2 separate regions of the Homo sapiens genome follow, and region 1 is linked to region 2. The links come from fine-mapping of genetic effects on gene expression. A gene starts in region 2. The other region holds a variant in brackets. All regions are shown on one strand. Distances are from middle to middle.

The links. PIP is the estimated chance that this variant, and not a neighbour inherited with it, causes the effect. A credible set is the group of variants that fine-mapping cannot tell apart.
Region 1: its variant is the best candidate, but not a certain one, in a credible set for the expression of GABPB1-IT1 in whole blood (INTERVAL, PIP 0.64).

What each region holds. Positions count from the first base shown.
Region 1 is chr15:50,309,841-50,312,862 of GRCh38, forward strand. All of the region lies in intron 1 of GABPB1 (GA binding protein transcription factor subunit beta 1), which reads right to left. Among named protein-coding and RNA genes, the nearest start is that of GABPB1-AS1, 43 kb to the right of the region's middle. The variant T/G (reference allele first, on the strand shown) is at 1,546.
Region 2 is chr15:50,353,387-50,356,098 of GRCh38, forward strand. GABPB1-IT1 (GABPB1 intronic transcript) reads right to left here and starts at 1,493. Exons shown (of 1, transcript NR_026891.1): 1 at 1-1,493. It overlaps GABPB1 (GA binding protein transcription factor subunit beta 1), which reads right to left and starts at 1,812. Exons shown (of 9, transcript NM_016654.5): 1 at 1,599-1,812. GABPB1-AS1 (GABPB1 antisense RNA 1) reads left to right here and starts at 788. Exons shown (of 1, transcript NR_024490.1): 1 at 788-2,712. RefSeq lists enhancers at 796-855, 1,594-2,217, 2,286-2,365 and silencers at 986-1,195, 1,206-1,455, 2,036-2,085.

The DNA of each region.
Region 1 (3,022 bases), 43 kb before region 2:
ATACACTATGACATGACATTTTCCCTTCCTGTCTTTATTAATAAGTCAGTTCTCAATTATCCCTTCAAAAGAGTGTGCTATGGTTAATTTAAAATTACAGATCATACAAAAGCAATTTATATTTGGATTTTAGAATCCATTTTCCTTTCTCATTAAGTTTTTACTTAGAATAAAAGTAGTTTAAATTCTCCAAATACATCTGGTAAAAGATAGAAGAGGTAAGTAGCAGAGAAAAGCTGGCCTAAATTTTTATTTATTTATTTTTTTCTTGACACAGAGTCTCGGCCTGTCACCCAGGCTGGAGTGCAGTGGCACGATGTTGGCTCACTGCAACCTCCGCCTCCTGGGTTCATGTGATTCTCCTGCCTCAGCCTCCCAAGTAGCTTGGACTACAGGCATGCACCACCACACCCAGCTAATTTTTCTATTTTCAGTAGAGACAGGGTTTCACCATGTTAGCCAGGCTGGTCTCAAACTCCTGACCTCAAATGATCTGCCCGCCTTGGCCTCCCAAAGTGATGGGATTACAGGCATGAGCCACCCCACCCAGCCAAGCTGGTCTAAAATTTAAAACTGGCAACTAATTGTTTTTACTGGAGGGTTTGCAGCAATAAAATTTTTCATAAAAGTAAATAAAGTGCAAGATATTGTCATCTGTTGTTGGTGCAAATTAAACTAAACTTAGCATAAATTTTTTTGCAATAGTAAATGTGTTCAAAATTTTAAAAAACAAATTTTCTGCCCTCCTACATGCAATGTATATTTAAGTTCTTGCAGAAAGTAAACAATTCACATTCTATGAAAATACTAAAAACAGTAATAGTATTACGAATAGACTGTCTCATTAGAGGCTAGAGGCCAGGTGCGATGGCACATCCCTGTAATCCCAGCAGTCTGGGAGGCTGAGGCAGGTGGATCCTTGAGGCCAGGAGTTCGAGACCAGCCTGGACAACATGGTGAAACCCTATCTCTACTAAAAATAAAAAATTGGCTGGGCATGGGGGCTCACACCTAGGGTCCCAGCTACTCAGGAGGCTGAGGCACAAGAATCACTTGAACCCAGGAGGCGGAGGTTGCAGTGAGCCGAGATCATGCCACTGCACTCTAGCCTGGGCAACAAAGTAAACTCTGTCTCAAAAAAAAAAAAAAAAACCAGGAAAGAATATCTTGTGCCTTGAATTTAATATATCTGAAAAGGCTAATGTCCCAGCCTGGGATGTGAGGTGTGCATGGGTGTGTATGTATTTGTGTCTTCTTGAATAAGAAATATTGAAATATATGTCAGAAAAAAGATTATGACAGTAGAATATAGGTAAATTAAGATTTGAATGTATCACAAACATTCAAATTCAAGGGATGACAGTTCTGAGAAGAAAGTTTCCAAACCCAGAAAGACTATCCAGCTGGAAGATTACTCAATTATGTCATACAGTATCCTAAGTAAGGAAAAGCAGAATTTTAGGCCCATGGGGAAGGGAATATATGGAATCCCTGAGATTTACAATGAAAAAATGTGCCTGGGGTATAAATTTATCTCAAAAAAAG[T/G]ATATACTCTGAGGGTTAGGTAAGTAGTCAAGAGAAAATAAATTATAAAGAGAGTAATGGCAGGTTGATTAGTGTATCTCTACCTGGTATGAACAACTATTACAGGTTGAGTATCCCTAATCCAAAAATCTGAAATCTGAAACTTTTTAAGCATCAAAGGAAATACTCATTAGAGCATTTCAGATTTTGCATTTTTGCATTAGGGATGCTGAACCAGTAAGTATTAATGCAAATATTCCAAAATCTGAAAAAACCCAAAATCGGAAACATTATGGACCTAAGTATTTCAGATAAGGGATACTCAACTTGCACTCAATAAGGAAGAGAAAGGAGCGTATGTGTGAGAAGGAAGTTGGCAAATGGGGCTTGAAAAAGTTATTTCTGCCAGAAAGAAACAAAATGTTCTACATCATTAAAAGGGATAAGAAATCTAAAAGGGGTAATTATAAGAAAAGCTGTCCATGAAAATAAACAGAATTATGCCTATAATTTTTAGTAGATTAGCTACGATGGGAATAACCAAGCACAGAAGAGGTAACCAGGGACAGATACTAATACTTGGAGGCTTGCACAATAATTAGGTGAGATATACATATCCCAAACAGGCCTTCGTCACAAGGCAAGAAAGAATTTCTTAGAATTGTTTCATTTGTAAGGATAAAAATAATCTATATTATGGCAAGGCGCAGCAGCTTACACCTGTAATCCCACCACTCTGGGAGGCCGAGGTGGGTGAATCACTTGAGGTCAGGTGTTCGAGACCAGCCCGGCCAACAGGGTGAAACCCTGTCTCTACTAAAAATTCAATCCAGCCTGGGCAAGAGTGAGACTCCATCTCAAAAAAAAAAAATAATCTATATTATATCCTGTAGTAAAGAATAGGAAAAACAACCACATGTACTTGTGGGATTTATATGGGTTTTTTAAATACACTTCTCTGTGACACTCGCAACATTTTCATCCTTGAATTTCTGATTTCCTTTCCTTTTTTTCTCCTATTCTCTCATACCTTGATGGAGTCACTGAAAGCCAAGATACTCCTCAATCCTGCTTAAAGACGCTAAGATCTATAGAGATTACTGATCTCCAATGAGGCATTTTTTCCTAGATAATATGTAACTGCTGGACAGTAAAAATTAACATCATATTCAACAGGGAAGAAACCTGCAAAAATAATTTCCTATTAAAGGCAGGATAAAGCAAAAAGAAACCGACCTCTCTCCTACAGAAGTACGGTAAAATCTAAACTGGTCACACTAACAAATACAGCATTTATACTCTGAATGATATAAATTTGGCTTTACGATGAAATTTATCTTTCCAAAAATCTACATTTTTAAATAGGTTTTACACAGGTAATATAAAATCAGTTTGCATTCATTCAGCATACATACTGCCAAATGGTTTAGATATCTGAGTATCTTTTGTGAAGTGAGAGTTTAGGGCTTTTCCCCACCTTTTGAAACTGGGTTGTCTG
Region 2 (2,712 bases):
TTGGTTTTTTTTTTAAAAAAGTATGAGTGTACAGTGGAGTGTTCCAGAGGTTACATGGTGTGCTAACCACAACAGTCTGACGTAGATCTGAGAATCTTCTATTAAACCAGGCATTAAAAAGATTTGCAAAAATGCAAGATGTCACTCTTATCATCTATGTTAACATGTAATGGATTTATTTTTTGTTTTTGGAAAAAAAAAACCAAGAGAAAAGAAAATAAAGTCATCTTTAGTTTCCTTAAATTCAAAGTCTGAGCCTGAAAATGGAAGTATCAAAGCTGATGGTTATACGTCAGTGAGAAAAAAATTTAAACCAAGCTGGGTGGGTCTTTACATGAGATAAACTATCTACAGGAAAGAATGACCACTAACTTCTGCATAATAAATGAGAGTGGATCTTTTAATTCTGAGATGGCAATGTACTTTACAAGGACCATTTACAGACTACATCAAACCTTTTTCTAGATAAAAAACGTACTTCAGTAACTTGCCTGAATTGAGAGAGCAAAACAGTCCGGAGAGAAAACTTAAAATGTTTCCACATTATCAAGCCCCCTTCAGAAGTACTGTGGTCTCGGCCCCTCCTTTGAACAGATGTCCGCTCGCCACAGTCCAATCAGGTTTAAAGCAAGAGTATTTGTACTGAAAACAAGCTTAAAGTGGGAAGACACACACAAAGCAGGCCTGTATCATTCCTTTGGTTTCAGTTTTCACGATGCACCCTTGAGGCTAGGCACGCTGATTCAACACACTTGGAGAGCTTCACCGAAACACACTAAACACACAGTGATGAACTGTGCCCTGGCAGAGATGACCTGGCAAAATTCTCAACTTCTTCCCTGAGGCAGTGCACCCGCAGTTCTCGGCGGCGAAGTCTTTGGGGCAGAAGTCCCGAGCCTTCAGAACGGCAGGCTTCTCCCCCTCAGGACTCCAGTCCCCGCGGCCAAGGCTGTCGCTGCGGGGGCCCCGCGCGGGACTGGCCAGGCTCTTCCATTAACCCTGTCTGGTCCGGCCGATCCCGCCGCGACCCGAGCGCCTCTCGGCCCCGCAGCACAGGGCGCCCAGGACCCGCCACCCTCGCCGCCCGTTCCCCTCTCCGGAGAGCCCGGCGGGGCCGTCAGGCTGCCGAGACAAAGGGTACCGCGGCGCCAGAGGCCGAGGCCCAGCCGCGCCTGCCTTCCTCTTTCTCCCGCCCACTGCCAACCTCCAGTCGCCCGCAGAACCTCCGCTGCCTCGGCGCGACCCCATCGCCACCCCGGGGCTGCCGCTCGGGACCGGCAAGCCGGGTAGCCGCGAGGCGGCCGCGGCATGCTAGGGCCGAGGAGGGGGCGGCGGCCGCCACCATGTCTGCCCGCCCCTCCCAGAAGCAGTGTGCCCAGCGGACAAAGCGCAGCGGCGGCGCGGGCGCCCAGGCCGACCCCGCCGACCCCCGCGGAATAAGCGGGGCCAGGAGCCCCGGAAACCCGGCGCCTTAATGCAATAAACAGGAAATCGCGGGGATGATCTGGGTTCCGGGGGAAGTGGAATTATTTTTTACCAGCGAAGAGATCAACTTCCACATCCGGTGGTAACAGGGCCCTACACAGACCCGCACTGACCTGGAAAAGCTTCGGGAGCGGCGACGGGAAGGCAGCAGGAGGTGGTGCGGGGACCCGAGGCGCCTCGTACCCGGCCGGGCTGACGCGGCCCCGCTACACACAAAGCGCTTCAGCTGCACAGGGCGCTATTTTCCGAAAATGCCGCGTCTGGTCGGCGCCCAAAATCCCCACCGAAAAGTCCCCCGTGCTGCGCGCGGAGGGACACATGGTGTGCGAGTGAGTCAAGCTCCCAGCATCCCTCCCGGACCCGGCCCTCTTCAGCTCATCGCCCGAGGATTTTCCGCCTCTGCCCTCGTCGGCAGATCCTGCTCCTACCCACTCCCTAGCTGTGTTCCCGCGGGGAGAGAGGGGAAAGAGGGTCTGATTTTTTAACGAAGGGAAAGAAAATATGCCATTTCTAGCGCTTCAGCCACACAAAGAAAGCGGCGGAATGATCCGCTCTCGGCGACCGCAAGTCCCGGCTCGCCCGGCGCCTGCGCGGCAGCGGGGGTGGGAGCTGCGGACGGCCATGTGCGCGGCGGAGAGGCCGGGTGGCCACCGAACCTTCCCGCCTGTTCTGCGGTGGGTAGGAGTTTGGAAACTAATGTTCCTGTGCTAACCTTCGTGTCTCTGTGACATGACTGTTGAAAGACGGAGAGTGCGGAATCTTTGGAGTTTTAAGCTTGCCAACTGTGCGGCCTAGCAGAATCCTGGGAGACGGAAGGACAGCCAAGAGGCTAGGATTTACCTTTAAGTGTCCCTAGATTCAACTAGGCAGACTGGGACGGGAGACGCTGTGAAGGTACCAGGGAAGGAACGAGTGAGGTTCCTTTTCCACTTTTTCATAAACTCAACAGTCAGGTTCATGACGAAGATATAGATATTTCTGTAGATTTTTTCCCCAACATTCTAATTATGCCTCATGTTTCGTAGATCCTAGTAACTGCTTGGATTACTGCCACCTCAGAGGTAGAGATCTGTTTTTCCGTGGCTGGAATGCCAAAAATTTTGTTGTATTTTATTAAGAAAGTAGCAAAAGTTTGGAGATTTGCAAAGTTAAAAAAAAAAAAAGCATTATGAACTTAATCTAGATGTGATTTGCTAAGGAACTTAATATATTGATATGTTTTTCACA